Linked DNA regions of Homo sapiens. The protein of the gene in region 1 purifies or fractionates together with the protein of each later gene. This does not show direct contact. Each region holds a gene or a part of one and is shown in the gene's direction. Other genes may lie near its edges.

Region 1 (7,000 bases):
GTACAGTGGCGTGATTTCGGCTCACAGGTCACTGCAACCTCCACCTCCCGGGTTCAAGTGATTCTCCTGCCTCAGCCTCCTGAGTAGCTGGGATTACAGGTGCACGCCACCACGCCCGGCTAATTTTTGTATTTTTAGTAGAGATGGGGTTTCACCATGTTGGTCAGACTTGTGTTGAACTCCTTACCTCATGATCCGCCTGCCTCAGCCTCCCAAAGTGCTGGGATTACAGGCATGAGCCACTGTGCCCGGCCCAAAATCAGTCTTAGTCCCTCTAACAACAAACCTATTGTCTTGCTGGGGTTAGATAGAAGAAACAAGACAGTTATTATGAAGCGCCTTAGACACACGAAGGATAATTTAACGTGGACTATGCAAAGTGCAGAAGTAAACGTGGAGTGGAGCAATTAGGCCAAAAAATCCTTTGGGGGAAATGGATTTGAGACTGGTCTTTAAGGCGTATTACGAGTATGATTGAAGAAGAGGAAGAAATCAGCAAATTTGGGACTTGGCACTTTGTTTACCTGTTAAGCAACCAGCAGGTGCCTTCAGGTTGACATAGCTAAATGACCCAAATTGTCTGAGCACTAGAAAGTGTCATTTCTTAAAGGCTAACTTTCAAATTAATAATAGGCATTGAATACATAAGATCTGAGAGATGTGCTTGATTAATTCAGCCTTCCTAAGTGTTAAGTGTAAGTTATTTGACTTTTTTTAATTGACAGATTAAAATTGTATGTATTTGGCCAGGCCTGGTGGCTCATACTTATAATCCCAGCACTTTGGGAGGCCAAGACAGGAGGATAACTTGAGCCCAGTTCAAGACCAATCTGTGCAACATAGTGAGACCCCTGTCTCTATTAAAAAACTTATTTTTAAAAATCATATATATTTATGGTATACAACATGATGTTTTAAAATATGTATACATTGTGGAAAGGCCAAATCAAGCTAATTAGCATATGCATTACTTTACATACTTAACATTTTTTTGGTGATAATTAACTTTTTATATTTAACTGAACTTGGCCTAGCAGAAGCTCTCTAGTGTTTTGTTCATTTAATGTTGGGGAACATTTTGTTTTGTTTTTCATTTCTTCCTTGGACATTTTTGAGATGCAAGTAAATAATTCATTTTATCCAATATGCTTTTAGGAACATTCTTGGTTAGGAAAGTTTTGTCAGTTAATAATCCCTGGTCCTGTCTGGTGTCTGGTGTAGGATGCTTTGCTTGTTCCTTTTGACTCCCTCCTGAATTCCTTCTGTATAGCTTCAGAGAGTCTCCATATTTCATGCCTCAGTTTCTTGATGGTATATAAGATGGGAATCAGGCCAGGCTGAGTAGCTCATGCCCATAATCTCAGCACTTTGGGAGGCTAAGGCAGGTAGATCACTTGAGGTCAAGAGTTTGATACCAGCCTGGCCAACATGGCGAAATCCTGTCACTACTAAAGATACAAAATGCGCGAGATGACGTGGCGCATGCCAGTAATCCCAGCTACTCAGGAGACGGAGGCAGGAAAATCGCTTGAACCCGGGAGGCGGAGGTTGTGGTGAGCCGAGATCATGCTACAGCACTCCAGCCTGGGCAACAAAAGCAAGACTCCGTCTCAAAAAAAAAAAAAAAAAAAAAAAAAAAGATTGAAATTGTAGAATATTATGGTTGGAGAGATCTGAAAGGTCACATGATCTAACTCCCCATCCAGTACCTCAGTGTTCTCAACATGAGTGATATATCCATCTTGTTTCTAAAAGAAAAAAATCCTCCTGGATACCCAGTGTTATTTTCTTCTATTGTTATTTAAATGTGTTTAAACATAAATCTCGGTATAAGTCCTCATGTTTAAGTACTTTAATACAACCCTAGTGTAAGCTAAATAATCAAAGTAACAAAATCAGAAAACCGCAAATGAACATTATTCAACGTGACAGATAACATTGTTTTGCTGAAACAAAATCACCAGAGTTAGGTTTAACAATGGAAAGACACAGCCTTTAATCTGGTTATATTTGTAATAAGATTTCCTATTTTGACTTCAATAATATCAATGCAGAGAATGCTTGTTCTCATAAGTGTATTGCACAGAACAGTATGACTAATGTCAGGTCTTAAGTCGTTCAGGATAATCACATGTTCTGCCATCTAATAATCTTCAAATAAATGCTTATTTAATGAGGAGTCCCCCTGACAACTCTGTAAGGCTGTTTTGTCCACCATGTTCATGTGTTCACATGTGTGTTGGTTTATTCAACAAATGTTCACCAAGAGACTATATGTGCCAGAAACTGCTAGCACTGAGGGTACAGTGGCGAACCAAAGCAGATGGAGTCCTGGCAGGGTGACAGGCAGTAATCGGGCAATTACACAAACAGATGCAGAACTGCAACTGTGACAAATGCACTGAAGCACAGGGATGGGGCGCCAGGAGAGCCCAGACCACCCAGGGAGGCAAGGAAGGGCTTTTCTGAGGGGGACGCCTAGGTGGAGGTCCAAGGGTTGGCATAAACCAGGCAGAGTGGAGGAAAGCTTTCAAGGCAGAGGAAAATGCCTGGGGCCCATGGGGAGGGGCCTGTGGCACACCCCAGGAGCAGAAAGAATGCCTGGGTGGGATGGAAGGCCTCATGGCCTCAGGGATGTCAGGGAAAACTTTTAAGCAAAATGGGATAACATGATCAGATTCCTGTCCTGAAAGGATTACTCAGCGGTGGTTCACACTTGTAATCCCAGCACTTTGGGAGGTGGAGGTGGGTGGATCACTTGAGGTCAGGAGTTGAAGACCAGCCAGGCCAACATGGTGAAGCCCCATCACTACAAAAATCCAAAAATTATCTGGGCGTGATGGTGGGTGCCTGTAATAATCCCAGCTACTCAGGAGGCTGAGGTGGGAGAATTGCTTGAACTTGGGAGGCGGAGGTTGCAGTGAGCCACGATCACGCCGTTGCACTCCCGTCTGGGCAAAAGAGCAAAACTCCATCTCAAAAAAAAAAAAAAAAGGGATTACTGGGCCAGGTAGAGAAGAGGCCTGGAAAAAAGAAGGGAGGAGGCTTTTGCTTTAGTCCAGATGAGGGAATGTTGGTAGCTTAGAGATAGAGAGAAATAGATGTTTCCAAGGAGTATTTAATAGGTAAAAATATATAAAACTTCCTAAGTGTATAACTAAGAGAATTGAAAACATGTCAACATTGAAACTAAAAACATCATACACAGCCGGGCGCGGTGGCTCACGCCTGTAATCCTAGCATTTTGACAGGCCAAGTTGGGCAGATTGCCTGACCTCAGGAGTTCCAGACTGGGCAACACGGTGAAACCCATCTCTACTAAAATACAAAAAATTAGCCAGCTGTGTGTGATGCACGCCTGTAGTCCTAGCTACTCGGGAGACTGAGACATGAGAATTGCTTGAACCTGGGAGGCGGAGGTTGCAGTGAGCCAGGATCGCTCCACTGCACTCCAGCCTGGGTGACAGAGCAAGACTCCATCTCCAAAAATAAATAAATAAATAAAAATGAAAACATCATACACAAATGTTCATGGCAGCTTTCTTCATCATAGCCAAAACATGGAAACATCCCAAATGTCCGTTAATTGATTATGGTTAAGCAAAATGTGGACTATCCATACAGGGGAATATTATTCAGCCATAAGATGGAATGACGTACTGATAGATGCTACAGTGTGGATAAACCACAAAAACATGCTAAGTGGAAGAAGCCAGAGCACACATAAAAACATCATATGTTGTATAATTCCATTTATGTAAAATGTCCAGAACAGGTATATCAATAGCAACAGAAAGTAGATTAGTGGTTGCCGGGGGCTGGGGTCAAGGGGAACAGGCAATGACTGCTTAATGGATGGATACAGATTTCTTTTCCGAGTGATTAAAATGTTCTGTAATTAGATCGACGGTGATGGTTGCATAACTGTGACTATACTAAAACCCACTGAACTGTGTGTGTTTTAAGGGCAAATTTTATGGTATGTGAATTATATCTCAATAAAGCTGCTCTTTTTTAAAATCTCTAGAACTAGTGATAGATTTAGGTACAATAAAGCTGCTCTTTTTTAAAATCTCTAGAACTAGTGATAGATTTAGGTATGTGAGATGGCGGGGAAGGTAGGGTCAAGAGTATCACTGAGGTTTCTGGCCTACATGACTGGATGGAGAGAGGGAACACTAGAGGAAGCCTGGGGGCAGGGGAGTCAAGGTCGAGAGTTTGAAGTGTCTCTGGGGCATCTGAGAGGGCCGCACTGACGCCAAATGGCAGTGCAGTTAGAAGGCAGTCGTTCAGATGGCCCCAAATGTACTCCATAAAAATGTTTTGTGAGTATTGTCTAATATAAATGGCAATATAAACTTGTGGAAAACTCAGTGGTGTCTGAAGGTAAGTCTGTGAGACCCTACCTGGGTTCTGCAAAATCCAGGTGATGAAACACATTTAGTACAGAATTCACTTTGTAGGTCTTTCCACTGGTGTGGGACTCCCACTTCTAATCCTTAGAGAGAACAGTCAGCAGCGGAAAGGGATGTTGCATCTGTAGGTAAGGTCACCACTGAATAAAAATAGTAAAAAAAATCAACCTAAAGAAGGTAGGTTTAACTGCCCCTCTGAGAAATTGCTTAAAACATTAAGATGATGGAGTTTTAGAAAACATCCAAGCCAGTCCAAGGAACTAAGGTTTTTCTGCAAGAGTTGAATTTATATTTATTTATTTATTTATTTATTTATGAGAAGGAGTCTCGCTCTGTCACCCAGGCTGGAGTGCAGTGGTGCCATCTCAGCTCACTGCAACCTCTGCCTCCTGGGTTTAAGCGGTTCTCCTGCCTCAGCCTCCTAGATAGCTGGGAATACAGGCACCCACCATCATGCCTCGCTAATTTTTGTATTTTTAGTAAAGACAGGGTTTTGCCAAGTTGACCAGGCTGGTCTCAAACTCCTGACCTCAAGTGATCCTCCCGCCTCGGTCTCCCAAAGTGCTAGGATTACAAGCATGAGCCACCACACCTGACCTGTACTTGACTGTCTGAAACCATTGTTCTCCTGTCATTCTGGTCGAATTCGCTTAAGGCACATGGTGCTGTTTGCTGACTCCGTGCAGGATGTTCATCTATCTGGTCCCATCATATGCACTACAAAATCCTGACTAGCAAAAAATATGACTATATCATATGTATGCGCTATTAAATTATAACTGTAAGCCCACATGTCTACAAGCAAACCTGACTGTCACACTCAGAGTGATTCGCTGTTTGTTTCCTGCTTTCTGCATTAATATTCTTTTGCCGTTTGTTCATTTGTTTTATCTGGCTGATAGGTAGCTGACAAATGGAAGCTTGCACTAAAAGTCTAAGAAAATATATATGGGAGTGAAACTTAAAATTGAGAACATTTTTTGTTAAGTGATATATTTTTCTAAATATTAGGAAGGATTGTCATTACTCTAATCTGGTGGTAACCCCTGGGTCTGGCTTGTGGCAGACACATCAGTATTTGCAGAGAACAGAATTCAAGAATCCCTGGGTCTGCACGGTGGCTCACGCCCAGCACGTTGGGAGGCCAAGGCAAGAAGATAGCTTGAGCTCAGGAATTTGAGATCAGCCTGGCTAACATAGTGAGACCCTGTCTCAATACAAAAAAAACCAAAAAAATTAGCTGAGCATGGTGGCCTGCGTCTGTAGTCCTAGCTGCTTGTGAGGCTGAGGTGGGAGACCACTTGAGCCTGAGAGTTTGAGGCTGCAGGGAGCCATGATCGCGCTGCTGCTCTGCAGCCTGAGCAACAGAGCGAGTTCCTGTCTCAAAAAAACAAAAGCAAAAACAAAAACCCTGGGTCTGAAGTGAAGGTGTGAAAACAAATGCAGTGATGTCTATGAAGCTTAGCAAAAGGCAACGGGGCTCTGGAAATGTCAGTTTATTCAGGGGCGTTATTACCCTGCACTTGGATCACTGTTATCATGTAGGGCTGTGCATTCATTTGTTCATTTGGAAAGCATTGATTCAGCACCTGGGGGTAAAGCACTGAAGTAAAGCCTTACTGTCTGCTGTCTCGCACATTCCGCCCTGCTCTCGTCTCTTGGGCTCTTTGTCTCCACTCACTCTTATTCATCCTTCAGAGCTCATGGGTCACCTACTCCAGGAAGCCTTCCCATCCCTCCCATCTTCTCCTTTCAAGCACTTATCCCACCGAAATGGGTGGTTCTGTCTTATGTTTGGTTTGTTTTTGCCAAGTAGCATAGCTTTATTTTAAATTGTGGTAAAATGTACATACATAAAGTTGTCATTTTAACTATTTTTAAGTGCACAGTTCAGAGGCATTAAATACATATGCCTTGTTGTCAGCCATCACCAACATCTGTCTCCAGGACTTTTCATCTGTCCTAACTGAAACTCTATACCCCTTAAACACTGTCTCCCCTCCTTGGCCCCTATTCTGCTATTCTACTTTCCATCTCTGTGAATTTGACTACTCTCAGTACCTCATGTAACTGGAATGACACAGTGTTTGTCCTTTTGTGAGTGGCTTATTTCACTCTGCATAATGTGTCAGGGTTCACCCATGTTATGGCATGTGTTGGAACTGTCTTCCTTTTTAAATGTGAATAATATATTCCACATTTTGTTTATCCATTCATCCATTGATAGATTGCTTCCACCTTTTGCCTGTGTACTGTGAGTAGTGTTGCTGTGAACATAGGTATACAAATGTCTGTTTGAGTCCTTGCTTTCAATTTGGGTATATACCCAGAAGTGGGATTACTGGATCGTATGGTATGTCTATTTTTCCTTTCTTTGCTGCAGACATGGGGCACTGCCCTATCTATGCCGTAGGACACTATTCAGATGCAGTGGGATGTCTAGTTGGTATTCCCCAGGGCATTCAGTGCAGCACCCCTCACCTCCCCCAGCAGACCTGGCACATAGAAGCAAAGATTTTCTAAATGAAGGATGCTTAGCAAGAGAGATCATTTGTAAACAAATAACTACAGTAAGTTCAGATACT
Region 2 (7,164 bases), on another chromosome or scaffold:
AGACCAACCTAAACAACATAGCAAGACCCCCATCTCTGCAAAAATTAAATAAAATGAAATTTTAAATTTAGCTGAGTGTGGTGGCATGTGCCTGAGGTTCTAGCTACTTACACGAAATAATTTCTTTTTTTTTTTTTTTTTTTTTGAGACGGAGTCTTGCTCTGTCACCCAGGCTGGAGAGCAGTGGCGTGATCTGGGCTCACTGCAAGCTCCACCTCCCAGGTTCATGCCATTCTCCTGCCTCAGCCTCCTGAGTAGCTTGGGACTACAGGCGCCCGCCACCGCGCCCGGCTAATTTTTTCTATTTTTAGTAGAGATGGGGTTTCATCGTGTTAGCTTGATCTGACCTCGTGATCTGCCCGCCTTAGCCTCCCAAAGTGCTGGGATTACAGGTGTGAGCCACCGCGCCTGGCCACAAAATAATTTATAAAAGCTGCAATATGGTTTTTGATATATCAGATATTACATAATAACTACAATAGATTTAGATTATGACTTCTCTGGTAAACCAAGTGATATAGTTTGGATGTTTGTCCCCTCCAGATCACATGTTGAAATGTGATCGCCAGTGTTGGAGGTGGGGCCTGGTGGGAGGTGTTTGGGTCATGAGGGTGGATCCCTCATCCCCTCCCCACTGTAATGAGTTCAAGAGTCTGGGATCTCTGTCATCTTTCTTGCTCCCTCTCTCACCATGTGACATACTTGCTCTCACTTCACCTTCCACAATGAGTAACAGCTTCCTGAGGTCTCACTGGAAGCCAGACAGATGCTGGTGCCATGCTTGTATAGTCTGCAGAACCACGAGCCAAATAAACAACTTCTTCTTCTTTTTTTTTTTTTAATAAATTACCCAGCCTCAGGTATTCCTTTATAGCCATGCAAAATGGACTAATAAACCAAGGAAAGCCAGAATATAGTTCTGACATTCCAGACACGTCCTGCAGGTAAGAGCAAGGTCATAGATAATAAAACCCTTGCTTGGTGGTTCAAAACAGCAAACATTTATTATCTCAGTTTCTGTGGGTTGGGAATCTAGAAGCAGCTTAGCCTAGCTGGGTGGTTCTGGCCCAGGGTTCTTGTAAGGCTGCACTCAAGGTGTCAGCCCATGCTGCAGTCTCTCAAAGCTCAACTGGGGTTTGATCCACTTCCAGACTCACTCATGTTTCTGGTGGTAAGTCTCAGTTCTTTGCCATGCAAGCTTCTCCACGAGGTCTGTGTCACTACATGGCAACTAGTGTCCTTCAGAGAAAGTGTCCAAGATGGAAACTACAGTCTTCTTTAATATTTTAAGTGGCATCTCATCACTTCAGCTGCATTCTGTTAGTCCAGCTTATAATTGGGGGTAGAGGATTCCACAGAGATCAGCAGTCAGGGATTGTTGGTGAGCTCTTAGAGGCTGTCCACCACAATAAGAAAGCAGCAGATCATGTCTTCCATTCTCCCAAGATATTTTATCTTTCAGTAGAATGATACCTAGTAGCAGACTAACAACCATATGGACAAGCAGGATGCTGAATCTCAATATATGTAAGATGGAATATAACAGAATGACCAGAAATTAGAATTTCATTTTCATATGCTGTTGTTCAATTATTTTTTCACTTTTAGTATGGATTAATTAAAAGGATTGAGTTTGTCATTATGAGAACTTGAACTTTTATTGTTATAAACTGAGGACATCAATGTATGTTATTCTGGATTTTCAACTATTTTGATGTGAGATTTTATAAATGTTATGAGTTATATATGTTAGCACATGTGGAATGGTGACTGAAGAATTTGTTTGCACAATTTAGAATGATCTTGTCCTTTTAAAATACCAGTTTAGTTTACTTGGTATACCAGGCTCTCTTTTGACATTAATGTAACTTTTGAGACATTAGGTTAGACATAGCTTAGCTTTAAATTCTGTCCAAAAGCAATTTATGGTATGCCTGTATTGTATTAGGTGCTAGAGTAAATGAGGTTATACTACTTTTCAATTTTTTTTTTTGAGACGGAGTCTTGCTCTGTCACCCAGGCTGGAGTACAGTGTCGCGATCTCTGCTTACCGCGACCTCCGCCTCCTGGGTTCAAGCCATTCTCCTGCCTCAGCCTCCTGAGTAGCTGGGATTACAGGCACTTGTCACCACACCCAGCTAATTTTTGTATTTTGAGTAGACATGAGGTTTCACCACATTGGCCAGGCTGGTCTCCCAACTCCTGACCTCGTGATCCACCTGTCTCGGCCTCCCAAAGTGCTGGGATTATAGGCGTGAGCCACCACGCGGCCTGCTTTTCAGTTTATAATCTGTTTTGGAATGAAAGACGGCCTGAAATGTACAGATATCATGTTTAGGCAGAATCACCAGTAGGTGTTGGTTATATAAAGTATGTTGTATGATGAAAAATATCTTATAACTTTAAAAAGTATGTGCTAGTAAGGAAGGATTGGCAAGATACACTGTTAGTGAAAACAGCAAACAAAACAACATTTATAACATCCTGAGGGTGGCGTTTGTGTGTGTGGATGAGGGAGCTATGTATACATGTGTAAGTGTACCCATGGACAGTGTTTGGAAAGACTTTATAAGAAACTTGGTGATGGTTCCTTCTGGGGAGTACGACTCTGAGGGTCTTGTGTAGGAAGATGGACTTTTCATTGTACGCTTTTTCAAAAAAAATTTTACATAATATTTTTGTTTAAAAAAATTGCCCAGTCTCTGAACATGGCTTTAAGAAATGTGTCTAATAATATATACATATACCCACTGTTATTTTAGTGATTTTTTTCTGAATATTGAAATGGACCCATTTGCAGGAAAGCTTGATTTGAGCTGTGAAGTTTGTTTTCAAAGCCTATACTGGCAGAGGCTCATGTTTACTTACCATATTATTTTCTTTATAGGGAGACCAAATTTTGAGGAAGGTGGACCAACATCAGTAGGGAGAAAGCATGAATTTATACGCTCAGAAAGTGAAAATTGGCGCATCTTTAGAGAGGAACAAAATGGAGAAGATGAAGATGGAGGTTGGCGACTAGCTGGATCAAGGAGGGATGGAGAGAGGTGGCGACCTCACAGTCCTGGTAAGAATTCTGTTGAGTAAAGGCACACAGGGACTGAAATAAGGGAAAGTTTGATGGAAATAGGGATTAAATGAAAAAGATAAACTGGCTTAAAAAATGTGGGGGTGGATTCATATTATTTATGCTGTCACAGTTTTATTACTAGAAAAAATTGCAACATAAAAATTTCCTACATCTATTCAGTTGATTGAAATCACTTTTCTATTTTTCTGGGGCAAATAGTGTAGTTTAATGGGAAGCACCTGCGCTCAACTGCAGAAATGAGGGTTTCATTCAGTTTTGTCTACCTCTAAATCTCTGAATCTTTTTTAGCATTCTTTAAGATTTATAAATGTGTAAAAATTACACACTTGAAATATGTGCTTCCCTCCCCAACAATGAGTGTTTTTCCTAACAAGAAAGGGTTTATTCTTTCATTTTTTCCCTTTTGAAAATGTGATTTAACCTTATTTGAAGAATAAGCTTTAAACCTAGGTCAGAAACATAATCACAAGTTCATTCTTATGTCCTTCTAACTTTAGAAGAAGGAGAGACAATAGTAGTGATTAGTGGCTTTTAAAGTTCTTCTGTTTGTCTCTTAAAAATGCTCAAACTGTTCTTCTTGGACATTAGATATGCTAGTAATTGAAGACACTAGTGCTTTGTGTTAAAGTTCATCCTGTACCACAGTGCTGATTCCATGCCTCATGATAATCAGATGCAACTGTAGTTCCAATTGTGGGGTCATGCAAAACTGAAGCACACAGAGTATATGTGGAATGCCCTATGAATTTCATGTGTATGACAGTATTTTATCAACCATGTGCCAGAGGGGCTTACCTTTAATACAGGAAATTATGATAAGTAAACTGTTTTCACTTTTAAAAATCAAGTTATTAGCAAAACCACTAGCTTAGATCTGGGTAGACATTATAACAGGCATTCAGAGTATTTTAAGGAAGTGGTAGGTAGATAGAAACATACTGAAGTTAATGTTTGGGTAGAGTTAGGATGGTTTTATACCAACTCTTCATGGCTGCCTCTTGGGTGGGTTTTCTGTCATTAGTGGGCATTGTTTACATCACAAGGTCTAGACAATTTTCATTAGTCTGTGACCTGGGCCAGATGTTATAGTTCTCTAAAAGGCATCACTGCATTTTATGCTGAGCTTGTCCGTAGGCAGAGGGTTTGTAGACTATGTTCCCAACAAGCATTCAGTGAAGAATGGATAGGATCTGGGCTGAGAGAGAAAAGAAATTCCAGCTGGTCAAAAACAAACAAGGTGAATGTTTTGGAAGATGAACTGTGTTTTTTGAGCCCAAATGTCTGATGTTGATTCTATTAAAGGGAGTTTAACAAAGTACCTCCCACCCAACAACTTAGAATTTGGTTATATATTATCTTCTTCTCATCTTTTCTGAATCTTTCTTTCCCCCTAATATTTGACTTTCATATCATTTTTGTCATCAACTTGTGTATCTTCCAGAACTTTTAATCCATATACATATATATTTTTTCAGTCACACCTGTGGCTGAAATCCATATATTTTTAAAAGACAGTTTGGGGGATATAAAGATCCCCCAAATATAAAGTTTGGGTCTGAAAAAACAGTGTAAATGCATTTTAAAAAAGAATACGATTCACTTTTTAAACCCAGTATATTCAAAGTATAGCCTGATTATAGCAGTTTTCATATGTTAACTCTTAACGTTTGTTAGTTTATGGTTAATCTTTTATTAAGATTTGAGTAAAACTTTAAATTATTTTAACTGATTTTATGAAAATAGTATCCAACTTTAGTTTAGATGTAGGGTCTGTAAATCAGCAGTCAGCCTTAATAAGTACCTTGCATGTCTTACTTGCTATGTTTAGTTTCGTGAGTAAAATTTTATGAACTACTGATAAGATAACATTATGGGATATAAAATAGGGCTTCCGGCTGGATGTGCGTGGGGGTGGGAACATTAAGGACAGGGAGGCATCCAGTCTGGGAGCTGAACCTAGGAAAGTCAGTAAGAGGAGAAACATGAGCCAGGTACCTAGAAGGATAGATTCCTGTCATGATGTACATTTAGACTGTTAGAAATGAAAGCAGTACAGAGGGCTCTGGAATTCATTTGATCATGAAGACTCTTTTCACATAATGGCTCTAGGTTTCCACGTAAGCAGTCTGAGTATAAAATTCCTTAGTTCTCATAGGAAGTAGTAAATAGTGTTTTGTTGTTTTTATATGAAGGGATGGGAGTGTGGGACTAAGATTTCTTTTTTGTGAGTGGCTTATCAGATGCTACCTGTATTTGGCATTTTAACGTTTTGCCCTTTGTTTTCCAATTTGATTTTTAGATTGCTGGTTTTTGCAAAGTTTGTCTCAATAGTGAGAACATTTAACTCTGGCCACATTTCTTTTTCTTATCCCCCACAGAGAAAGCAGTCAAGGATGGAAAATTCTAATAGGTTAAAGCCTGCTTTTCTTTTTAAGACTCTTTTAGACTCAGGTCTGTCAGATTTTAGCAAGAGTTTCCCTTTCTTTTTTTTAGAAAAATATCTTAAGTAGGATCTCTTATTATTAGGCAATCTTTTCTTCTGTTGGGAAATGTAGATTTGGGAATGTCCGTAGGGGTATTATATGGATAGGGAGAATTAAGAGATGAGAAAGAAGGGAGAGGAGTAAGTATGTTATTGTGGAACAAGCAGCAGAGGGTGCAGAATTGGATTTTAGTTCTACTTTGCCATGTGCGAGTTACTTCTGCTGGCAAAGTTTTAGTTTCTTCTTAAACTATAAAATTAGGATAGTGAACTTCATAAAATCTCTGTGACAACTTTCAGCACTGTAATTTTGTGAATTTTTGGGGGAGGATCAGAATTACAAGTGGGAACCTGGCATTAATAAATAGTCATGATGAGTTTGATATAAGTCAACACAGGGAGCTGATTTTATCCACAAACAATGATATTTTCATGGGAAGAAAGAAAATGCTTTAAGATTGGGCAAAAGGAAGGTGTAAACTTCAGTATGGAAGGATGTCTAGTGCATTAAGTCTGGATGAGGAGTTGGCGGCTAATCAGTATTTTAATCAAGTACCTAGGACTTACTGAAAGTGCGTACTTGGAATACAGTGTCCTTTAAATGTACTGCATTTTAGATTTATCTTTTAAAGCTTTAGAGTATGTTGCCTGGCTCAGTACTTAAGTACTGTTGTCATCTCGTAATGGTACATATACTCTGAACTCTGAACTTCATTTAGTTGCCTAATGTTCTCTTTACTAGGTCAGTCCATTTGAGTTTGCGGTCACTTGTAGTTTTCTCCTTTATTTTCTATTCCTGATTTTCTTATTCAAATACTGTCATAAAACTTTTCTAAGGTTTGTGTCCTCCTTCTCATCTCAGATGGCCCTCGTTCTGCAGGCTGGCGGGAACACATGGAACGACGTCGGAGGTTTGAGTTTGATTTTCGAGATAGAGATGATGAACGGGGTTACCGAAGGGTTCGCTCTGGCAGTGGGAGCATAGATGATGACAGGGATAGCTTGCCCGAATGGTGCTTAGAGGATGCTGAAGAAGAAATGGGTACATTTGACTCATCTGGAGCATTCCTTTCTCTAAAAGTAAGAAACGTGTTTTAAATGTCATGACCAGCATTAACCTTATACCAAAGCCAAATCTGCTGTTGATCTTTGGTTTTATTCTCTTTCTACAGAAAGTACAGAAAGAGCCTATTCCAGAAGAGCAGGAGATGGACTTCCGGCCTGTGGACGAAGGGGAGGAGTGCTCTGACTCTGAGGGTAGCCATAATGAAGAGGCCAAAGAACCCGATAAGACAAATAAGAAAGAAGGAGAGAAAACAGATAGAGTAGGAGTTGGTAAGGCCTCTTCTTGCCCTTTGCCTTTTTTTTCCTCCATCAAACCAAAACTTTCGTAAGTTCAACTAAGATTACTTCGTGTTCCAGAAGCTAGTGAGGAAACTCCCCAGACCTCATCATCATCTGCTAGACCAGGTACTCCTTCAGACCATCAGTCTCAGGAAGCATCACAGTTTGAGAGGAAAGATGAACCAAAAACTGAGCAAACGGAAAAAGCTGAAGAGGAGACTCGGATGGAAAATAGTCTACCAGCCAA
Region 3 (8,050 bases), on another chromosome or scaffold:
TAACTAGAAAATTCTAGAACTTTTCTTATATACCATGTCTAATGTCACAATTATAACTATCCTCCATCCCTCCCATTCTTTTTTGGAGATGGTGTCTTGCTCTGTCACCTAGGCTGGAGTACAGTAGCACGATCTTGGCTCGCTGCAACCTCTGCCTCCTAGGTTCAACTGATTCTCCCACCTCAGCCTCCCAAGTAGCTGGGATTACAGGCTCCCGGCACCACGCCTGGCTAGTTTTTGTATTTTTAGTAGAGACATGGTTTCACCATGTTGGCCAGGCTGGTCTTGAACTGCCCGCCTTAGCCTTCCCAAGTGCTGGGATTACAGGCGTGAGCCACCGCGCCCAGCCTTATTCTTCCTTTCTTAATGACTAAGATCAATTCCTTCATTTCTTTTTAATAGTTATGGAGTAGAAGCGTCACTATAATTTATTTACCAAACCTCATATGAGTATTTAAGTAGCTAACAAGGACAGTGTTATTTCAGGAACAACAGAAAATTTTAAGTGTAAATGGATGAGTAATTGTTTAGTTTCAAATACAGGATGAAGAACAGACTATACTCTGAGAAATACTGATATATTGTTAAGTAAATTCTAACTCAGATGTATCACAGTGCTTAGATCTTTAAAACAGGACACTATATGCTGGGCATGGTGGCTCATGCTTGTAATCCCAGCACTTTGGGAGGTGGAGGTGGGAGGATGGCTTGAGCTCAGGAGTTTGAGACCAGCCTGGGGAACATAGTGAGAACTTGTCAATACAAATAAAATAAAATAAATAAATAAAACAACACTATGAGGCATAAAGGAAACATCTGACATATATGTATATATTAAAGACAGGAATGAAAATTCCATTTAATAAATTTTTGCATTTTTTAATTTGGTTTTTAAATTGAGGTATAACTTATTACTGAAAGGTGCATAAATTTTAAATGTACAGTAAAATAAAATTGTATACATGTATAAAACCTTATAATCCTAACCCAGATCAATATATAGAACATCTCCAGCACCTCTGAAAGCTCCCTTTAATTCTCTCTTTCCTGACTCCATTAATATCTACTTCAAAAGTAACTATCATTTTGACTTTTTTTAATTTTATTTTTTTTACACAGAGTTTTGCTCTGTCGCCCAGGCTGGAGTGCAGTGGCGTGATCTCGGCTCACTGAGACCTCCACCTCCCGGGTTCAAGCAATTCTCCCGCCTCAGCCTCCCGAGTAGCTGGGATTGCAGGTGCGTGCCACCACACCCGGCTAGTTTTTTGTATTTTTAATAGAGATGGGGTTTCACCATGTTGACCAGGCTGGTGTCAAACTCCTGACCTTGTGCTCCGCCCATCTTGGCCTCCCAAAGTGCTGGGATTTACATGCATGAGCCACCGCGCCCGGCCGTAAGCTTAACATCTTTAGACCTCATGAAGTGTTGGCAATGATGTTGAGAAAATAGAGAAAATGGAACTACATTGCTGGTGGAAACATAAAACTTTACAACTGTTTTTGGAAAACAGTTTGACAGTTTCTTTAAAAAGCTGAAGATAACCTATCATATCATTCTACTCCTAGGTATTTACCCAGGAAAAATTAGTTTATGTTTATACGAAGATTCGTACACAGATATTCACAGAAGCCTTATTTACAGTCGTCAAAATGGAAAACAAACCAAATATCTCTCAATGGGTGAATGGAAAAACAAATTGTGGTATATCCACACAGCGGAATCCTCCTCTAATAAAAAGGAATGAACTGTTGATTCAAGCAACTACACAGGTGAATCTCAAAATAATTATGCTGAGTGAATTAAGACAGATAAAAAAGAACACATACTATATGATTTCACCTGTATAAAATTTTAAAAAATGCAAACAACTCATAGTGACAGAAAGACGATCAGTTATTTTGAGGGGCCATGGTGAGGAGGCCTTGACGGGCAGGAAGGATTCCGGGATATTCTGGAATTTTTATTCTGGATATAAAGGTACTTCAGGAAAATTTTGAAAGTCTGGATATGTTCATTATCTTGATGGGGTTGATGGCTTCACTGGTGTATACATACGTCAAAATGTATCAAAATTACACATTATGTGCAGTTTATTGTCAATGATATCTCAATAAAGTTGTTAACATTTTTTCAGTAATGTAGTTATCCTTTCATTCATAATTTTTTTCACAAATCAATATAAAATGATTTGTATTGTTTTTTATGACATTAACAATTCCATAGCAAGAGAAATGTCATTTTATTTCTCTTCTTTTACTCATTAATTCATTCAGCAAACATTTAAAGTGCCAGACATTAGGGTGCCGGAGAAACAAAGATAAAGCTTTGAAATTAGTAGGGGTAGAGAAGTGGCATTTACTGAGTACCCATTCTGCAACACCTACTGTTTTTACATATATCATTTACTTTTCACAAAACAGAAGACATACATTTTCATATATTCGATTTTACAGATGAAGACATTAAATCTGAAGTGGTTAACAGCAACAAAACTGGGACTGAAATCCAGGTTCGTGGTACTCCGAAGTCATAGTACTTTCCATCAAAACACAATACCAGAGTTTTATTCATTTATTTTTTGAGTCGGAGTTTTGCCCTTGTTGTCCAGGCTGGAGTGCAGTGGCACGATCTCAGCTCACTGCAACTCCTGCCTCCTGGGTTCAAGCGATTCTCCTGCCTCAGCCTCCCGAGTAGCTGGGATTACAGTCACCCACCACCACGCACAGCTAATTTTTTTTTATTTTTAGTGGAAGATGGGGGTTTCACCATGGTGGCCAGGCTGGTCTGGAACTCTTGACCTCAGGTGATCCACCCGCCTCAGCGTCCCAAAGTGCTGGGATTACAGGCGTGAGCCACGGTGCCCTGCCCACACCTTACAGAGTCCTGAGGGGAGTGGAACAATCCTAACTTTTTCTGAAGAAGTCAGTGAAGGCTTTGCCATTGAGGCTCTACTGTTTGAGATGCAGTAGATGCTGTGCAATATTTAGAGTTTTAAAGGAGTGCGTTATTGACGACCTAAGGGCAAATTATATATTATCTGACAGAAGTAACGTTTTCTTATTCATTGTTCCTGTAGTACTTTGCTTATGTGGTCTATAACTCATTCACTTCATACCTCAGTGAGTTGTAGTTAAGCTTGTAATTGACAATTACAGTGGAGTGGAAGCTGCCATTTGTATTTTAATAACACAATTTTTTTGGGGGGGTGCAGAGTCTCACTCTGTCTCCAGGCTGGAGTGCAGTGGCACAATCTTAGCTCACTGCAACCTCTGCCTCCCGGGTTCAAGCGATTCTCCTGCCTCAGCCTCCCGAGTAGCTAGGACTATAGGCACGCGCCACCATGCCTAGCTAATTTTTGTATTTTTAGTAGACAGGGAGTTTCACCATGTTGGCCAGAATGGTCTTGATCTCTTGACCTCATGATCCGCCTGCTTCAGCCTCCCAAAGTGTTGGGATCACAGGAGTCAGCCACCGCGCCCGGCCAATAACACAATATTTTTAAGCACCTACTATGATCTGTGATAAATCCTCTTATACGGATACATTATTCACAGCTCGCGAGTTAGTGTCTCTATCTCCTTTTTACAAAGAAACAGGCTGCAAAATAAAAATTACCTAAGGGTGTAAAATAATAAAAACACTTAAGCCATGTAACATTAGCAACTATCTCTATTTTTCTGTAAACTTTTATTTTGGAGCCACATTAAACAACTATTTTTGTAGTCAAACACATTCAAATGCATGAATAAATTACGTTCCAAGCCACTTACAAATATAAACTAAATTTGGATTACTCTTATTTCTTTCTATTGTGCATAGCAAAAAGCTGAGGAAGCTTTTAATTATCTCTAGAACTCAACATTTGCCTTTGATGTGAAGTATCATCATTTCAAAAACACAAGCTAAAACTGAAGTGGTGTTCAGTATAATGAGGTTGGTTTCTTATATAGCATTATTAACTTTATGTTCTGAGAAATGAGGACATTTAATAGCAGGTTATAGATTCATGCATCAACAACATTCAGCATTACCACCTAAGGCCAGTGCTATGTCTAAAAAGCTATATTTAATACTCGCAATGTTACACACAATTATGTCTTCAATGAATGTTCAGTGAATCCTTCTTTATGATGCTGATAAATATCGTCTATATAGCTAAAATCGTTTACATAGCTAAGGGCAAATCGCTGTTTACTAGGGATAGTAATGCCGAACGGAGTGAATACATGAAGTCGTAAATTATATGAATGCAGGGTGACCTAATATAGCCAGGGTCTCAATTTAATAATATATACCCGTTTAAAAATAGCCTTATTTCCTTCTCTAAAGCTTGGACTCTTTTTTTTTTTGAGATAAGGTCTCACTCACTTTGTCGCCCGGGCTGGAATGGAGAGGCCCGATCTCAGCTCACTGCAGCCTCGACCGCCTGGGCTCAGGGGATCCTCCCACCTCAGCCTCTTCAGTAGCTGGGACTACAGGTCTGCACCACAGGGCCGGCTAGTGTTTGTATTTTTTGTAGAGACGGAGCCTCGCTATGTTGCTCAGGCTGGTCTCGAACACCTGAGTTCAAGCGATCCGCCCTCCTAGGCTTCCCAAAGTGCTGGGATTACAGGAAGGAGCCACCGCACCGGCCTGGGCTAAATCTGATTCCAAGTTTACACAAGTTTGTTGAATGCCCACTGTGTGCTTAATGAAAGATCAAAGTTTGATAAAACAAGGTCCCTGCTCTTACTGAGCGCATAGCTTTCTCAGATTATCAGGAACCAAATTTGGAAAATAATCCAGAACGCTGGCGTAGGTAGCTCAAGGTTCCCCGCTTGCAACATTTAGTCCAAACCAGTCAATTCTAGGCGGCGGATTTCCCCATCCCCCTCCGTCGCCCAACCTTTGGGTGGGGCCACTCCCAAACGCTCCCTCCCCTCGTCCCGCCATGCACAGCAGTGCGCATGCGCCCTCAGGGAGGCGGACAGTGACCCTGAGGCATTGCCGTCGCGCGGTGCACAGCTAAGACGTCGCGCTTGCGCAGGCGCTCGGCGCAGAGGCCTGCGGGAAGCCAAGATGGCGCATAGGGGTTCTCCAGGCTGCAGTTGGCGCCTTATCAGTATCTAAGCGGAGTGTTTTGGAAGGAGTTAAGGGGCTGTGGCAAACGCCCTCTCCGCCGTCATGGCCCGGCATCGGAATGTTCGAGGCTATAACTACGATGAAGGTAGGTGGCAGGGTCATGCCGGGACGTTCTTTTCCCGGCTACAGCTGGGATCCTAGCCCGTTGGCATCCACTTCAATCTGTGAGTTTCTCGTCAGTGTTGCCCTGTCGGGATTGGGAGAGCCCCAGTTGGGGAATATAACAGGCCTTCTAGTGCTTTCAAATGCCGTCGTTTTTAAGTCATGATTTCTGCCCTCTGGGGTTGATTTTATTTGGGGAGGGGGAGGTGCTGCATAGCGTCATATGGGTAGGATATTGGTGAGGTTGAGATCCGGTGATATTTAGGCACGTAAGCATTATCACCTCTTCCATTGTTTCCTCCCATGTTGGGCACTAACGTGCCTGCTTCTAGCTCCTCTCTCCCAGATCCCCTTTGAGAAATGTCCATGAAACGTTGCTTATTTGTAAAACACAGATTGACTTAATACATTCAACGGACGTGTACCTGTGTTAGATTTACATGGTAAACCTTTTGTGTATGTCCATACATACCTAGTGCAGAATCAGTTTGCGCTAATTTATTTTTCAACGAATTTCAAAGTGGAAACTTAGGAGACGGTAGAAAAGACACATGTTAAAAAGGCCCAAAGAATGAGTCGATCAGATGGATCTTGAAGTTTATACTTAGTTCTTGGCTGGTAATGCTTGATATAAATGTATTTTGAAATGTAAATAAACGGCAGTACTAGAGGAAAGAGTGTATAGGAAAGGACTTTTTGATATTAAAAAATGAAATAAAAATGTCTGTATGAATGTTCTGTAGGAGTTAACAGGAGTTAGAATTATTTTTAGGAGGAGCACATCCCTCTTCATGCAGTAGATAACTATAGGCATCACCAAGCATCACATAAACTAAAAATATAAACAAAAATGAACTAATGCAGGAGAAGAATAAAGAACTATGCTTTACGAAGTGCAGAACATGTAGTGCTTAATATGTTGGTGATTGTCATTGGCACCCCAGTAGATTATTATAGAACATCAGTATGCTTTAACTAGAGTGAGGGCAGCTAACACCCTGTTCTCCATTTGGAACCTGTGACCTCAGTCCGTCTAGAACATGTGAATTTTCTGGTGGTTACTTTAGAATGGAGGCCCTTTTAAATAAATATTGCAGTGGATGGTATTGCATGTGGACCATTGTCACCTAAGAAATGACTTTAGATTGAGAGAGATTTTTGCAAATATAAAGTACATGAATAGGCCTATTTATTATTCATTCATTTCTTTAATAGTTGTTTATCATTTCCTCAACCACCATTAAGTTAGTGCTTAGAGTACTGTTCTAAGCTTTGAGGACTGAAAGTAAGATATTTGAGGGTGGTCTAAAAGGAGAAGATTATACGAGTTACAGATTATTAGAGTATGAAAAATGCTACAAAAGGTACTGAGAAAACGCTATGGGAGGGATACACAGATGAGAACACTTAATTCAGAATGGATTGGGGGGAATTTAAGCAGGATTTCTACGTTAAGGAATGCTTCATGGAGGAGAGGTGGTTGGCCTCAGGGAGCACCTTGGCTTCTTGAGGTTAGGTTGTCATGTTGTCATGCTTCTTTGAAACAATTGGTGACATCATAACCAAGCTGTTCCTGTAACATTAAGGAGGTTCATCCCCTTTTCTTGTTTATAAAAGTTGTACTCATTAAGGTCCAGTTTATTTCTCTTCTTCCCAGTTAGGCTTTCTCTTGAATTCTCAGAATAATAATTTAAAAATTCTGTTAAGAAATATAACCTCATTAGAGAGAGTTTGTGTTCTAAAACCTACTGGTTCCGCTACTTAACTCCCACTTTGTTTTTCTCTGTAATTTATGTAATACTTTACATGACTGCCTCAGTCACTGATTTAAAAGTCTCAGGAAGGCAAAATCCATACTTTAAGTAGCTGGCACAATGTTCTTTACATGTGGTAAATATTTCATAATTTTGTTGATTGAGGAAACAAACTATGAAGATTGCAGGAAAGAATTCTCTTCATCTTTATATGTTGTGGCACTTTAGGGTCAACTTCAGCATTGACAAACTGACCTAGTAAAAAAGAGTTTTTTTTCTTTTTTTTTTTTTTTTAAGAGACAGGATCGCACTTTGTTGGTTGGCCAAGCTGGAGTGCGAGTGCAGTGGCATGATCATAGCTCTCTGTAACCTCCAACTCCTGGGCTCAAGCAATCCTCGTGCCTCAGCCTCCCGAGTAGCTAGGTCTACAGGCATGTGCCCCCATGCCCGGTTAATTTTTTATTTTAGTAGAGACAGCATCCGGCTGTGTTGCCCAAGCGAGATCCTCCCTCCTCGGCTTCCCAAAGTACTGGAATTACAGGTGTGAGCCACGATGCCTGGCCTATTGTTGTCTTCAATATCTAAAAATACTTTGTTTGTGAATGGCCCCTTGTTTATTTGCAAATAAATTTTTATTAACTTGGGATTGTGATCTAATAATTTATTTAATCATATATGTTTTTGCCCAATAGTAGCATTTATCTAATTTTTCTTTGCTGTAAGCATTTGGTCTCAGCCTTTGAGCATGCTGTTCCTGCTGCATGAATACCCTCAGAAACTAGCTAACTCTATCCTTTGGAATTGGTTTGGATATTATATTAATGGGGATCTTTCCCTAGCTGCCCCACTCCCGGTTCTAGTTTTGTCATTCATGTGTGTGTTCCCAAATTGCTCTGTGTTTCTCACATCAGGCACTTGTCACATGGTTTTGTAATTGCCCATTATCTTGTGTGTATTCCTTGTCAGATTTTAGGTGCAGTGATAACTGGAAATGTGTTCACTGTTATACCACAGTTGTCTCAACTACTCCCTGGCATGGTGTTAGTGTTTGTCAAATGAAATTTATGTAAAT

The links.
Region 2: the proteins of DIS3L (region 1) and GIGYF2 purify together in Homo sapiens (affinity purification with mass spectrometry; 3 studies listed by BioGRID and IntAct, with this or other methods). This does not show direct contact.
Region 3: the proteins of DIS3L (region 1) and HBS1L purify together in Homo sapiens (affinity purification with mass spectrometry; 5 studies listed by BioGRID and IntAct, with this or other methods). This does not show direct contact.

The regions. Positions count from the first base shown.
Region 1 is NC_000015.10:66,296,568-66,303,567, forward strand, and holds part of DIS3L (DIS3-like exonuclease 1), read left to right. Parts: intron 1-7,000. UniProt on the Homo sapiens protein: Catalytic component of the RNA exosome complex which has 3'->5' exoribonuclease activity and participates in a multitude of cellular RNA processing and degradation events.
Region 2 is NC_000002.12:232,784,263-232,791,426, forward strand, and holds part of GIGYF2 (GRB10-interacting GYF protein 2), read left to right. Parts: intron 1-2,887; coding exon 2,888-3,067; intron 3,068-6,435; coding exon 6,436-6,653; intron 6,654-6,745; coding exon 6,746-6,908; intron 6,909-6,995; coding exon 6,996-7,164. UniProt on the Homo sapiens protein: Key component of the 4EHP-GYF2 complex, a multiprotein complex that acts as a repressor of translation initiation. In the 4EHP-GYF2 complex, acts as a factor that bridges EIF4E2 to ZFP36/TTP, linking translation repression with mRNA decay.
Region 3 is NC_000006.12:135,051,806-135,059,855, reverse strand, and holds the start of HBS1L (HBS1-like protein), read left to right. Parts: upstream 1-5,033; 5' UTR 5,034-5,164; coding exon 5,165-5,207; intron 5,208-8,050. UniProt on the Homo sapiens protein: GTPase component of the Pelota-HBS1L complex, a complex that recognizes stalled ribosomes and triggers the No-Go Decay (NGD) pathway.